4 linked regions of the Homo sapiens genome follow. The gene in region 1 interacts genetically with each later gene. Each region holds a gene or a part of one and is shown in the gene's direction. Other genes may lie near its edges. The genes, in order: KAT8, KAT6A, KAT6B and ATG10.

Region 1 (3,569 bases):
GTAGTGTGTCAGGGACTTTACCTACTTCCTCTTACTTACTTTTCATAGGTAAGAAAACAGACAGAGGGTAAGGGCTTCGCTGCAGTCTCACAGCAAGGAAATGGCACAGCTGGGACTAGAACTCAGGCCTCCGGCACTGGTAGCCTCTTTTGTCTCCTAGTAGCTGTGTCTTAGTAGAAAAAATGACTTGAAGTTCAGTGGGAAAGACGAGAATGTTATTCGGCAGTTGCTATAGCCAAGCACCCTGCCAAGTGCTGTATATGTATAAGCTCCTCAAATCCTTCCCAACAATTCAACACACAGGAATAGTTACTTTTTTGGTAGGTGAGGAAGCAGGCTGAGAGAGATTAAGTAACATGCCCAAGGTCACACAGCCAGTAAAACGGTGGGCTGGAATTAGAATAATAATGCCAAACACTTGTTAGCCGGTGAGCAGAAGTATTCAGCTAAATGGTTTTTGTGTGTGTGTGTGTGTGTGTGTGTGTGTGTTTTGTTTTTTGTTTTTTTTTTTGAGACGGAGTCTTGCTCTGTCGCCCAGGTTGGAGTACAGTGGAATGATCTCGGCTCACTGTAAACTCCGCCACCTGGGTTCAAGCAATTTTCCTGTCTCAGCCTCCCAAGTAGCTAGGACTACAGGTACCTGCCACCACGCCCGGATAATTTTTGTATTTTTAGTAGAGACGAGGTTTCGCCATATTGGTCAGGCTGGTCTCGAACTCCTGACCTCAGGTGATCTGCCCACCTCGGCCTCCCAAAGTGCTGGGATTACAGGCGTGAGCTACTGCGCCCGGCCTAAGCTAAGTGTTTTAATACATGACCTCACTGACATTTCACAGTAGGCCTGTGAAGTAAGCATGCAGAAGAGCTACAGATAAGTTTAGGGACCCAGACAGGAATTTGATCAACCAGCTAAATTGTGCTACCTCAGAGCCAGAGGCCTTAGCAATGATTTTGGTTTTTTTCTTAAGAGACGGGAGTCTTGGTGTGTTGCTCAGGCTGGACTTGAACTCCTGGGCTCAAATGTTCTTCCTGCCTTAGCCTTCTAAGTAGCTGGGACTACAGGAGTGCATCCCTGTACCTGCCTTGGTTTTTTCTTGTATTGATACTTAATAATTGTACATATTATTGTTATTTTTTTTTTTTGAGACAGCGTCTTACTCTATCGTCTAGGCTGAGTGCAGTGGCACAATCATGGCTCACTTCAGCCTCAACCTCCTGGGCTCAAGCAATCCTCCTGCCTCAGCCTCCTGAGTAGCTGGGACCATAGGCACGTGCCACCATGCCCAGCTAATTTTTTATTTTTTTGTAGAGACGGGATCTGCTATGTTGCCCACACTAGTCTCAAACTCCTGGTCTCAAGCGATCCTCCTGCCTTAGCCTCCCAAAGTGCTGGGATTACAGGTGTGAGCCACTGCGCCCGACCAAGTCTCAGTTTCTAAATTTATAAAAATCAGGAGTGCACACCAGAGCAAGATTTGTCAAAGTCTCCAGACACCCAGACATTTGTTACTTTCAGCTATTGCAGCTTCATCCTTCTGAGTACATGAGTTAGTGGGCAAGCCCAACATTTAAATTTCTTTAAATGGAAGAAAGAAAGTGGATAAGATAGAAAAATCAGGGTGTTGCACTTTATTAAGTGTAGGTATTGTTTTGAGAAGCTTTTATTTCACACCCAATAAAAGTGTGCAGGATTCCTCTTGTTCCAGCCTTACCTTCCCGATGATCCTAGCACATACTTGTGTGTATATACAGACATGTTACAGTGCCAAGTGTACTTCCTACTGTGGTGTGATTTAAAAAATTGAAATACCCTAAACTGGAAGAACTCCTCAAGGTCTAAACTGCCGAATCGAACTTCCTATTGTAATGGAAATGTTCTATAGCTGTACTATCTAGTACCGTAGCCACTAGCCACATGTAGCTGTTGAGCACTTGAAATGTGTCTAGTGTGACGAAGAATTAAGAATTTTAGCTGGGCGCGGTGGCTTACGCCTGTAATCCCAGCACTTTGGGAGGCCAAGGTGGGTGGATCACCAGGTCAGAAGATCGAGACCATCCCGGCTAACATGGTGAAACCCCATCTCTACTGAAAAATACAAAATAATTAGCCGGGCGTGGTGGCGTGCACCTGTAGTCCCAGCTACTCGGGAGGCTGAGGTAGGAGAATGGCGTGAACCCGGGAGGTGGAGCTTGTAGTGAGCCGAGATCCTGGGCTCACTCCAGCCTGGGTGACAGAGTGAGACTCCGTCTCAAAAAAAAAAAAATTTTTAAATTATGGGTGCAGTGGCTCACGCCTGTAATCCCAACACTTTGGGAGGCGGAGGTGGGTGGATCACTTAAGGTCAGGGGATTGAGACCAGCCTGGCCAACATGGCCAAAACCCCATCTCTACTAAAAATACAAAAATTAGCCGGGCGTGGTGGTGCACACCTGTAATCCCGGCTACTTAGGAGGCTGAGGCAGGAGAATCGCTTGAGCCCAGGAGATGGAGGTTGCAGTCAGCCAAGATCATGCCACTGCACTCCATCCAGCCTGGGTGTCCGATCAAGACTGTCTCAAAAAAAAATTAATTATCATTTTTTAAAAAAATTTTATTTTTATTTTTTCGAGACAGAGTCTCACTCTGTTAACCAGGCTGGAGTGCAGTGGTGCGATCTCAGCTCACTGCAACCTCCGCCTCCCAGATTCAAGTGAGTTTCCTGCCGCAGCCTCCCAAGTAGCTGGGACTACAGGCACGCACCATCATGCCTGGCTAATTTTTGTATTTTTAGTAGAGATAGGGTTTCACTATGTTTGGCCTCAAACTCCTGACCTCAACTGATCCGCCTGCCTCGGCCTCCCAAAGTGCTGGGATTACAGGTGTGAGCCACCGTGCCCAGCCAAAATTTTCATTTTTTGAGACAGAGTCTCACTCTGTCACCTAGGCGGGAGTACAGTGGCGAGCTCTTGGGTTACTGCAACCTCCGCCTTCCTGGCTTAAGCAATTTTTGTGCCTCAGCCTCCCAAGTATCTGAGATTACAGGCGTGTGCCACCACACCCAGCTATTTTTTATTTTTTATTTTTAGTAGAGATGGGGTTTCGCCATGTTGGCCAGACTGGTCTGGAACTCCTGGCCTCAAGTGGTCCTCCCACCTCGGCCTCTCAAAGTGCTGGGATTACAGGCGTGAGCCACCACGTTTAGCTGAGTATAATTTTAAATAGCCCTATGTGACAAGTGGCTACTTTATTGGACAGTGTAGATCTAAGATTAATTCCTCAACTGTTTTGCACTCAACAAAGACATACCTCTGAGTTGGCAACCAGCAGGGTGGATAACGGGCCAGTGGTGATAAAATCAAAGAATAGGTAATGAAACAATCATCCAGTTAACAATCAGCAAGGTTCTTCAGAGCCTAATTAATGTTTAATTCTAAATAAATTGCAACAATTAAGAAAAGTAGTGTTTTTGTAGTTCTTTATTGCATTTGCAGAAGAGTACTGTATTTTGTGAGAATTGGGAAATGTGTTTTAAAGAGATGTGTGAGGAGGAAAATCTTTCTTCCTCATCTTTACAGTGGTTAGGTTCAGA
Region 2 (3,569 bases), on another chromosome or scaffold:
TCTATTAATTTGCCTCTGCAGAAAATATCTTACTATTAGGCAACTGTTCTTTTTTGCCCAATCCTTTCTAAGCCTTTATCAGAATCTTTAGTTAATGGGAGAGTTGGACTTAGCATCAGGAAGATGTAATAACCCTTCACTAGAATGTGCATTCTCTAGACTTAGTCTGTTTTGCTCATTGCTGTATGCTGAGTGCTTAAGCCCGGCGCTCAGTAAGTAGTGTTAAATGAGTGAATGCTAAGAAGACAATTCTCCAGAAAGAGCAGATTCATGTAAATTGGAACTTGTGTCACATCTGTTCAGGAGTCTTTCCTGAATTGTATCTCTAATGTGTCTTACCCAACTAGTAGTAAATTTCTCACAAATGGTAACAATAACTCAAAATAAATTTTATAGTATAGATACAAATCCAACTATTTACTTTTAAAGCAGCCTAGTTGTCATTTCTTCTCTAGAGACACTGAAACTAGGTCTCATATATATGAGCCAGGTCAGAAACAAGTCTTTTTCACCCTAGCCTAAAGTTTTGCCAGTGTCTCATGCTGCCTGCATCTGCAGTGTGTTTATCTCGCATGGGCTCAGAATGAGCATTTTTACTTTGTTGGGCAAATTTGAAGAAATCTACTTGTCCAGTCTTGGTACATAAACCTTTAGCTTTTATGCATTAACTGGTTGAACTTTTTAATTCTTTTAAAAATTCAGTCAGTTTCAAGTCTAGAAGATAAACTTACATTTTCTCCATTCTCATATTTTCTATATAACAAATACTTTTTTATTTTTTATTTTTTATTTTTTTGAGATGGAGTCTCCCTCTGTCACCCAGGTGGGAGTGCAGTGGCACAGTCTCAGCTCACTGCAACCTCCACCTCCGGGTTCAAGCGATTCTCGTGCCTCAGCATCCCAAGTAGTTGGGATTATAGGTGCACGCCACCATGCCTGGCTAATTTTTGTATTTTTAGTAGAGACGGGGTTTCACCATGTTGGCCAGGCTGGTCTCAAACTCCTGACCTCAAGTGATCCACCCGCCTTGGACTCCCAAAGTGCTGGGATTACAGGTGTGAGCCACCCTGCCTGGCCAACAAATACTTTTAATATAGTGATAAGATGAATGTGTTCTTTGCTCTATCATGAATGATTCTACAGAGTTTAACTTGCTATGTTTTGAAATAACATAACTAGGAAACTAAAAATTTATTTTGTAAATTTAGCACTTTATATTCTGTCTTAGATCATTGTACACTAAAATAGTACCCCTGATTAAGTTCCCATGGACTTAGATTTTTGCTGATGCAGCCATTTCCTTTGTTGACTTTCAAGTTACTACTACTAACTGTGCCTTTTTAGCCGTGCCCCCACTGCATCATGTTCTTGTCTTGGTATTCTTATTCTTTAAAAATTAATAGGCAATGTGAGTGTACTTAATGCCACTGAACTTAACACTTATAAATGGTTAAAATTTTAAGTTTTATGTTACGTATAGTTTACCATAGTTTTTTTAAAATGCTAATAATATAAAATTTATTTCTAATGAATGTAATTGGTGCTTTAATTTTTTCTTGTTTGTCTAAGTCTAAATGTCAGTTTTTGTCTAGGACTAAATAAATGCTTTGCAGCTATTCCCATACAAACACAACATTAATTGAACAACTGTTCACATACGATGGCTCAGTCATGGCCTAGAGTAATTGGCTCATCATACTACCTGAAGTGATGATTTGTGGAAAGTAAGAAAATCCGAGAGATAAAGTAAATCACAAGCAGAAAAAAAAAGAGGAAATAAGCTAATTTGTAACTTTTAGTAGAGACAACTTGATAAAAGTACTGCTTACTACTTATTTGCCTCTTTATAAAGTTCATCTCCATTTTACAGATGATGAAACTGAAATGTAGAGTAACTTCCCACAGACATGCAGCTGATGATGGTAGTCTTGAATTGGTTCTGACTAGTGTCTGATAACATAATGTTGACCAGGATTCTTTCATAGTTCTGCCAATTCACTGTGTGACTTAGAATATGTCACTAATTAGTTTTATCCTCTAGGTTCTTAACTTTAAAATGAAGACAATCAGGAGTTTATAAAAGTAATGATTAATAAAGTCATTTCTATTGTATATGCTAGTCTTGGAAGAAGGAACTAGAAAATGTAAGACCTTGTAACCTGTCTTTGTTTTTTTTCCTTCCTGTATAGACACTCCTATCTTAAAGCCAGTATCTCTTTTGCGAAAACGTGATGTGAAGAATTCTCCTCTTGAGCCAGATACATCCACACCTTTGAAAAAGAAAAAGGGATGGCCCAAAGGCAAGAGCCGCAAACCAATCCACTGGAAGAAAAGACCTGGTCGAAAACCAGGATTTAAGTTGAGTCGGGAAATCATGCCAGTTTCTACTCAAGCATGCGTCATTGAGCCCATCGTTTCCATTCCTAAAGCTGGACGTAAACCCAAGATCCAGGAGAGTGAAGAAACTGTTGAGCCAAAAGAAGACATGCCCCTACCCGAGGAGAGGAAGGAGGAGGAGGAGATGCAAGCAGAGGCAGAAGAGGCTGAAGAGGGTGAGGAAGAGGATGCAGCCAGCAGTGAAGTCCCAGCAGCCTCTCCAGCAGACAGCAGCAATAGTCCTGAGACCGAAACCAAGGAGCCTGAGGTGGAGGAGGAAGAAGAGAAGCCCCGTGTCTCAGAGGAGCAGAGGCAGTCAGAGGAGGAGCAGCAGGAATTAGAGGAGCCAGAGCCAGAGGAGGAGGAAGATGCAGCTGCAGAGACTGCCCAGAATGACGACCACGACGCTGATGATGAGGATGATGGCCACCTGGAGTCCACAAAGAAAAAGGAGCTAGAGGAACAGCCCACGAGGGAAGATGTCAAGGAGGAGCCTGGTGTTCAAGAGTCTTTTTTAGATGCTAATATGCAGAAGAGTAGGGAAAAGATAAAGGATAAAGAGGAAACCGAGCTGGATTCCGAAGAGGAGCAGCCTTCCCATGACACGTCCGTGGTGTCAGAGCAGATGGCTGGGTCTGAGGACGACCACGAAGAAGACTCCCACACTAAGGAAGAGTTAATCGAATTAAAAGAGGAGGAAGAGATTCCTCATAGTGAGCTGGATCTGGAAACTGTACAGGCAGTGCAGTCTTTGACTCAAGAAGAAAGCAGTGAGCATGAGGGCGCCTACCAGGACTGTGAGGAAACTCTTGCGGCGTGTCAGACCCTGCAGAGTTACACCCAGGCTGACGAGGACCCTCAGATGTCCATGGTTGAAGACTGTCATGCGTCAGAACATAATAGCCCTATCTCCTCCGTTCAGTCTCACCCCAGCCAGTCAGTCCGTTCGGTCAGCAGTCCCAACGTGCCTGCCCTTGAGAGTGGCTACACCCAGATCAGCCCAGAACAAGGATCCCTGTCCGCACCCTCTATGCAGAACATGGAGACCAGCCCCATGATGGATGTGCCTTCCGTATCAGACCACTCTCAGCAGGTGGTGGACAGCGGCTTCAGTGACCTGGGCAGCATTGAGAGCACCACTGAAAACTATGAGAACCCAAGCAGTTACGACTCCACGATGGGCGGCAGCATCT
Region 3 (3,569 bases), on another chromosome or scaffold:
TAGTTATTTCTGAAATCAAGGTATATATTATTATCAGTGTGAGCATTGAATGGAATCGTTTCTTTTTTCCTGGAAAACAAATATTAGTAAATCAATAGTACATTTTATAATCAGTAGTGTCGTAGTATATACTACTATAAAGATTCATCTAAACTAAGCTGGGCATGATGGCTTACACCTGTAATCCCAGCACTTTGGGAGGCTGAGGCAGGTGGATCACTTGAGCCCAGGAGTTTGAGACCAACCTAGGCAACATGGCAAAGCCCCTACTCTAAAAAAAATACAAAAATTAATCAGATGTAGTGGTGTGCACCTGTAGTCTCAGCACTTTTGGAGACTGAGGCAGCTGGATCACTTGAGCCCAGGAGTTTGAGACCAGCCTGAGCGACATGGCAAAACCCCATCTCTACAAAAGATACAAAAATTAGTCAGCAGTGGTGGTGTGTGCCTATAGTCCCAGCTACTTGGGAGGCTGAGGTGGGAGGATCACCTGAGCTCAGGGTGAGCCATGATCGTGCCACTGCACTCCAGCCTGGGTGACAGAATGAGACCCTTTCTCAAAAAAAAAAAAAAAAAAAGGAACCATCTAAACTTACCCACACATCAATATTAGCTTTGATAATATTGCATAACATAAAAATCAGTAAACTGACTTTCCTTTTAAGTTGACAGGGACACCTCTACCCCATCCTCTAAAAAATACACTGAACACCAGTGAATCGTCTTTAAAAGCACCCATCCTTGCCTGTCAGGTTGAGAACGTGTGCTCCCAGCTGAATCATGAGGGTTTATGGTATACTCTCTCTATTCCCTGGCCAAGATGACTCTATTCAGAACTTACTTTAATCTGGGGAACAGGCCATCTCATTTCCCTGGGAACCACAGGATCACTCTAGCTTTTGAAAAGCCACAGTTTTAAGAACATATGCAAGCATCTTCTTGATTTTCTTAGTTCACAGAAATGCTATTCCTGCATACAGTATTTTGCTGAAGGAATGACTTCTTACCCTGGGTATAGAGAAACCAAGCCTTATTCTTTGGGTTTTTTTTTTTTAAACAAATAACAAACTGCAGTGAGCGATCATTTTGTGTGTGAAAATGAGGTTTATTTCCCCTTCTTGGCTGTCTTCTCATATTATGCCTGATTCCTTTCAGGATGTCCTTCTTTCTTAAAAATAATTGTCAGAAAGCTCATCTTCTGATTTTGGGAGGTGTTCCAACAAAAGCCGGTAGGTCCAGTAGCACGTAGAATAAGAATGCAGAATCCAGCCAGGCATGGTGGCTCATGCCTGTAATCCCAGCACTTTGGGCGGCCGAGGTAGGCAGATCACCTGAGGTCAGGAGTTCAAGACCAGCCTGACCAACATGGTGAAACCCCATCTCTACCAAAAGTACAAAAAAATTAGCTGGGTGTGGTGATGCATGCCTGTAAGTCCCAGCTACTTGGGAGGCTGAGGCAGGAGAATCGCTTGAACCTGGGAGACAGAGGTTGCAGTGAGCCGAGATCATGCCACTGCACTCCAGCCTGGGCAACAGAGCAAGACTCCGTCTCAAAAATAAAAAGAATGTGGAATCCGGGGGCACTGGCATGGCTATTACCTGCCATTGTGAATAGAAATGTCCTGAGATGACTCTTAACTCGGGCATGGTACTCGGCACTTCTCAAGGAAACATTCTACATCACATATGTGTTCTTTTCAGCTGGTCGGTTTGAATGTAATACTTGCAGGTAAGTTTATCTGTAATCCTTTTATTACCTAAATCAGCCAGTGCTTACTCTGCTGTCCACCAGTTGGACTAGAACTCACTCTATTCTGGCAGAAGGGATATCTGTTTTATGATGATTGTGAGATCTTATTTTTATTCTCCAAAATAGAGTTTCTAATAAGACTATTGTTCTATATAAAGCTTTTCCTTTAAATTGACCACTGATTCTAGAAGATTGGTGTAATCTAAAGATCTTAAGAATACTTGGGTGCTTCATGCATATATTTATTAATATATATTTATTAATATGTATATAGCTATTCATCTGCTTGTATAAATATGTACATATTTACATTTATATTAACATGTGCATATAGGTTCAGTAAAAAGCTCACCTGAACTGAAATGAACTTCACAATTATGGTTTGTTTCTAAGTGTCTTTAATATGCAAACCTTACATCAGCAACATATTGATCCAGAATTCAGTGTGGACAGAATTAGTGTTAAAAAGAATACCTGTATTTTAAATGTTCAGGAATTTGCTAGTAATTACATTGTAGTTTGTATCATGCAAAAATGATGATCCTAAAAATGATGATTACAAATGCATTTGTTTTGGGTATTTAGTTATTTACTGATTTGTTTCAGAGGTACACAGCTTATTTTTATGCCAGAGAGAACATTCAAATCAAAGTAAATAAATCATGTCTTCCAAGATCATTTACATCCTATAAATGTCCACAAACAGAGGTTTACTTTCTCTAGGTAGATATGAGAGTTAAGGCTTCTAGTCATTTTTCCAGGACAGTAATGATTTGTATATAAGCTAGCATTAATTCCTTTCCCCTATATTTCCTAATTTGTAAATGTTCAAATTGATTTTTTTTTTTACACTGTGGAACTCTGGGCTTTTGCATCAGAGAATGTCTTGTTCATTAAATTCAAATAAGCACATTAGCATTGCCTATATCCATGTGTTCCCAATATGTTACTCTCCCAGGCCTAGGTTATTTACTTGGTTTATAACACAATATTATTACACATTAGCCTTGATTATGTCTTTACCATCAACTTTTAACATGCCAAATTGAAAGCAGTGTTTGCTAATTAATTTAGAGGAATGAATTCAAGTTGCCCATGGTTATGCTTTCTAAGACTGTTTTTTTTCCTTCCCGTTTTTGTCTCTTCACTAAGACAATATGAATGATGATTCAAGTAACTTGAAAGAAGGCAGTAAAGACAATCCCGAACCTCTAAAGTGCAAACAAGTGTGGCCAAAAGGAACAAAGCGCGGTCTATCTAAGTGGAGGCAAAACAAAGAGAGGAAGACCGGATTTAAACTGAATTTGTACACCCCGCCAGAAACACCCATGGAGCCTGACGAGCAGGTAACAGTGGAAGAACAGAAGGAGACTTCAGAAGGAAAAACCAGCCCCAGTCCCATCAGGATTGAGGAGGAGGTCAAGGAAACTGGGGAAGCCCTGTTGCCTCAAGAGGAAAACAGAAGGGAAGAAACATGTGCCCCTGTAAGTCCAAACACATCACCAGGTGAAAAACCAGAAGATGATCTCATCAAACCTGAGGAAGAGGAAGAGGAGGAGGAGGAGGAAGAGGAAGAAGAGGAAGAAGAGGAAGGGGAAGAAGAAGAAGGAGGAGGAAATGTAGAAAAAGATCCAGATGGTGCTAAAAGCCAAGAAAAAGAGGAACCAGAAATCTCCACGGAAAAAGAAGACTCTGCACGTTTGGATGATCACGAAGAGGAGGAGGAAGAGGATGAAGAGCCATCCCACAACGAGGACCATGATGCCGATGACGAGGATGACAGCCACATGGAGTCTGCCGAAGTGGAGAAGGAAGAGCT
Region 4 (3,569 bases), on another chromosome or scaffold:
GCAAGAGAGTTTGAGCTGTGGATCAGCTCAAATTGTCATCAGTGGTGGAACATTTTTTCTTATGTGCTTGCAGAGTTTTATTAAAAAATTATCTTTTGATAAAAGTAATGATACTGGTATCAGAAAGATTGGATGTCATATAGATCTGTGGTTTTTTTTGTTGTTGTTTGTTTGTTTTAGAGACAGGATCTTGCTGTCTCCCAGGCTAAAGGGCAGTGTCACGGTCATAGCTCACTGCAACCTTGAATTCCTAGCCTCAAGTGATCCTCCTACCTCGGCCTTGCAAAGTGTACATCAGTTTGTGTAAGAAAGGTCCAAGAAGTGAACAGGCCTGAAAGTTGAAGAAAGGTACTATAAATGAGAAGAGGTGTATAGAATAAGTCCATTCAAATTTTTGAATTTTTCTTTTTTTTTTTAAGATGGAGTCTCGCTTTGTCGCCCAGGCTGGAGTGCAGTGGCACAATCTTAGCTCACTGCAACTTTCGCCTCCTGGGTTTAAGTGATTCTCCTGCCTCAGCCTCTGGAGTAGCTGGGACTACAGGTGCACATCACTGCACCTGGCTAATTTTTGTATTTTTAGTAGAGAAGGGATTTTGCCATGTTTGCCAGGCTGGTCTTGAACTCCTGACCTCAGGTGATTCTCCTGTCTCAGCTTCCCAAAGTGCTGGGATTACAGGCGTGAGCCACGGTGCCTGGTCTGAATTTTTCTTTTATTCATTTACAACTTAAAAAAAAATGTTTACTGGCTGGGCACGGTGGCTCACACCTGTAATCCCAGCACTTCCAGAGGCCGAGATGGACGGATCACGAGGTCAGGAGATCGAGACCATCCTGGCTAACACGGTGAAACCCTGTCTCTACTAAAAAATACAAAAAATTAGCTGGGCGTGGTGGCGGGCCCCTGTAGTCCTAGCTACTCGGGAGGCTGAGGCAGGAGAATGGCGTGAACTCGGGAGGCGGAGCTTGCAGTGAGCCGAGATAGCACCGCTGCACTCCAGCCTGGGCAACAGAGCGACACTCCGTCTCAAAAAAAAAATGTTTACTGTTTGCCTATCTGTTATAGATGCTAAGATACGAAGTGTAAATCAAATCCCCAGACATTGCAGACATTGCTCTATCATCTGGCATTTGTTGCAGTGGGTGAAGATGGCAGAGGCTACCCTGATTTTTGCTAATTGTAGGTAAACCTTTTTTTTTTTTTTTTTGCCTGCATCTTTTTTTCTTTCTAGTCTTTAAATTAAGATATTCCTGTAGGCTATGTTTAGGCATAAGTTTCTTTCCAGCAGCTTTGTTTTTTTTAGAAACATGGTGAATTCTTTCAATTTATAGGTAAATATTTTAAATCTTTTTTTTTTTCCATCTTAGAACAGTTTTTCAGTTGTACATTTGCTTATGATTGTAGTTCAGAAATTCCAGTTATTTGTAGGTTGGACCTGTGTTCTTTGTCCTTCCATCAAACAATATGCATTATTTTCATCATGGTCTTTTTTCTTTTGTGTGTTTGGAGAGGATCTTATGTGCTTATACACTGAAACACGAATGTGATTTTTTTCCAGCTTCTATACATCTCTCTGTTGCCTTGAATGTAGAATTTTTATCTCTACTGTTACGTGTTTGAATTTCCTTCCAGTTTTTTCTTATCCAGTTTCCTTTTTCATCTCAGCTGTTTTTCCTTCCTCATCTCTTGCTTTTAGAGGTCTTTCCCTTTCTCTTTTTCTTTTTAAAATTGGGAACATAGAGTAGATAATTCCTCGGTTTGATTTCCATATTCCTAGTGTAAGTCCATTACAGGAGCAAGCTTTCCCTCTTCCTGTTTATGGTAGTTCCCCTCTTTTCTTATGCAAGAGCTTCTTAAAGGTCTTGTGTTGTTATTAATGTTTTTGGTTTACTTACCTTGACAAAAGAGGGGCATGTTGACTGGTCAGAGTGACCAAGTGTTCCTTCGTCTCTCTCACTACACTTGGAAGCTGGAGGAATCTTCCTCTTTATGTTAGCTTGGAAAGCAGATGAATGGGTACAACGAAATTTATGAAGGATAGATCATTTTCTATACTTAGGAGAGGTCTTCCTTTCCTAGTGTTGAATCTTTCGGTCCTGTAACTATAATGAGGGGAGTGTTTTTGTGTGATTTGAAATAATTTATAGTTTTTTTTTTTTTAGTTTTTTGGGGTGTTAGTGGTGAGACTGTACTATGCTGAGAGCTCATTCTGTTCCTGCAGCTACCTGTCGCTCGCTGCACAGTACTCAGTGCACCTCAGGGCTTTACCTTCCACATCTGGCCATGCACACTGCACTACTGGGAGAGAACTGCCTTGAAAGAGAATTACCAGTGGAGCTAGAAACCAGGAGGGGAGGGGCAACTCAGGATCTGTTTCTCTGAAGGGAATGGGAGAGAGTGAAATGACCCTCTTTCCCCTGACCTAGTGATAGAGAGGTCAGAGCAAGCCTCAGCTACCAACAGAGATTCCTCATTTCCAGCCAGGTACAGTGTTGCCTCTCATTTAAACTTTGATTTGGAATATGTATTCCAATGGGAAGGCAAGGAGGGAGAATTGAGCCTGCTGGTCATCTGTTGTTAGGACTGATACGACTTCTCTTCTGATGTGTCTCTGTGCTATTTTATTGGATTGCCCAGGGCCATGCCTTCTGTGTCCCACCCAGGCTGCCAAATGTCTTGAAATCCAGGTCTTTTACCAGCCCTGTCAAAGTGATTCATCTTTTGTCTAGGGATCATGCTAATCTTTTAGCATGATTCCCTTTGAAAGTATCCCAGGTGCTAATTAAAAGTAATTATTTTGGGTCTTCAGAATCAGGTTATTTTTCTGGCCAAGGCCTAGGATTCCACATTTGAATTTGCACTGTGGGTGCTTCTTTGCTGTCTAAAATTTGAGGACCACTGCCTAAGGACCTTGCTAGGTAAGTGATTAAATTAATCTGAATCAATTCAAGCCAAATTGCCATAAAAGTAGTGGGTTGATGTTTAACTCTCCTACCTGATAGTGCATGTTTTTTAAAAAAGAGTCTACACTTAGAGTTATAAATAATGTGGAATTGTTGCTAGGAGGGACAAGTATTCAGGAAATTGCCTACTTTATTAGTCAAAAATGATTTTTAATGTTTAAATGTATGCATCGCATGTTCTGTGGTAATCACATTTTTGTAAATGATCTTAAGTTCTGGGAAATTCAGTTATATTTCTTATAGTGTTTTAGTCCTATTATGACTTTGATGTACATTGATTTATAGATTCATCAAATCAACGTCTCCAACTAAAACAATAACAAAGAATTAGTTCTACACACATTAGATTAAAAATCACATTAAACAGTATGGAGAGTGGTAGTGAAAAAATTGTTTTCAATTAAAAAGGATCATTTAAACAATGATTATATACAGTGTTAGAATTCACTAAGGCTGCTTTTCTGGAAAGATATATTTGAACAGCAGCAGAATAAGCTTCTTCTATCCTTCTAGTCTAAGGGCTAACTTACAGTTTGGAAAGACTACCCTCACTTGGAAAAACAGAAAATTATTCTATTTTTCCAATCTTTAGTCTCTGCTAAAGCAGT

What was found.
Region 2: changes in KAT8 (region 1) and KAT6A together harm fitness more than expected from each alone (negative genetic interaction), as found in Homo sapiens cells (one large-scale study listed by BioGRID).
Region 3: changes in KAT8 (region 1) and KAT6B together harm fitness more than expected from each alone (negative genetic interaction), as found in Homo sapiens cells (one large-scale study listed by BioGRID).
Region 4: of KAT8 (region 1) and ATG10, changing one enhances a phenotype caused by changing the other (phenotypic enhancement), as found in Homo sapiens cells (one large-scale study listed by BioGRID).

Annotation. Positions count from the first base shown.
Region 1 is NC_000016.10:31,120,628-31,124,196, forward strand, and holds part of KAT8 (histone acetyltransferase KAT8), read left to right. Parts: intron 1-3,569.
Region 2 is NC_000008.11:41,933,488-41,937,056, reverse strand, and holds part of KAT6A (histone acetyltransferase KAT6A), read left to right. Parts: intron 1-2,189; coding exon 2,190-3,569. UniProt on the Homo sapiens protein: Histone acetyltransferase that acetylates lysine residues in histone H3 and histone H4 (in vitro). Component of the MOZ/MORF complex which has a histone H3 acetyltransferase activity. May act as a transcriptional coactivator for RUNX1 and RUNX2.
Region 3 is NC_000010.11:75,025,587-75,029,155, forward strand, and holds part of KAT6B (histone acetyltransferase KAT6B), read left to right. Parts: intron 1-2,902; coding exon 2,903-3,569. UniProt on the Homo sapiens protein: Histone acetyltransferase which may be involved in both positive and negative regulation of transcription. Required for RUNX2-dependent transcriptional activation. May be involved in cerebral cortex development.
Region 4 is NC_000005.10:81,978,502-81,982,070, forward strand, and holds part of ATG10 (ubiquitin-like-conjugating enzyme ATG10), read left to right. Parts: exon of another isoform or gene 1-348; intron 349-998; exon of another isoform or gene 999-1,177; intron 1,178-2,406; exon of another isoform or gene 2,407-2,916; intron 2,917-3,569. UniProt on the Homo sapiens protein: E2-like enzyme involved in autophagy. Acts as an E2-like enzyme that catalyzes the conjugation of ATG12 to ATG5. ATG12 conjugation to ATG5 is required for autophagy. Likely serves as an ATG5-recognition molecule. Not involved in ATG12 conjugation to ATG3.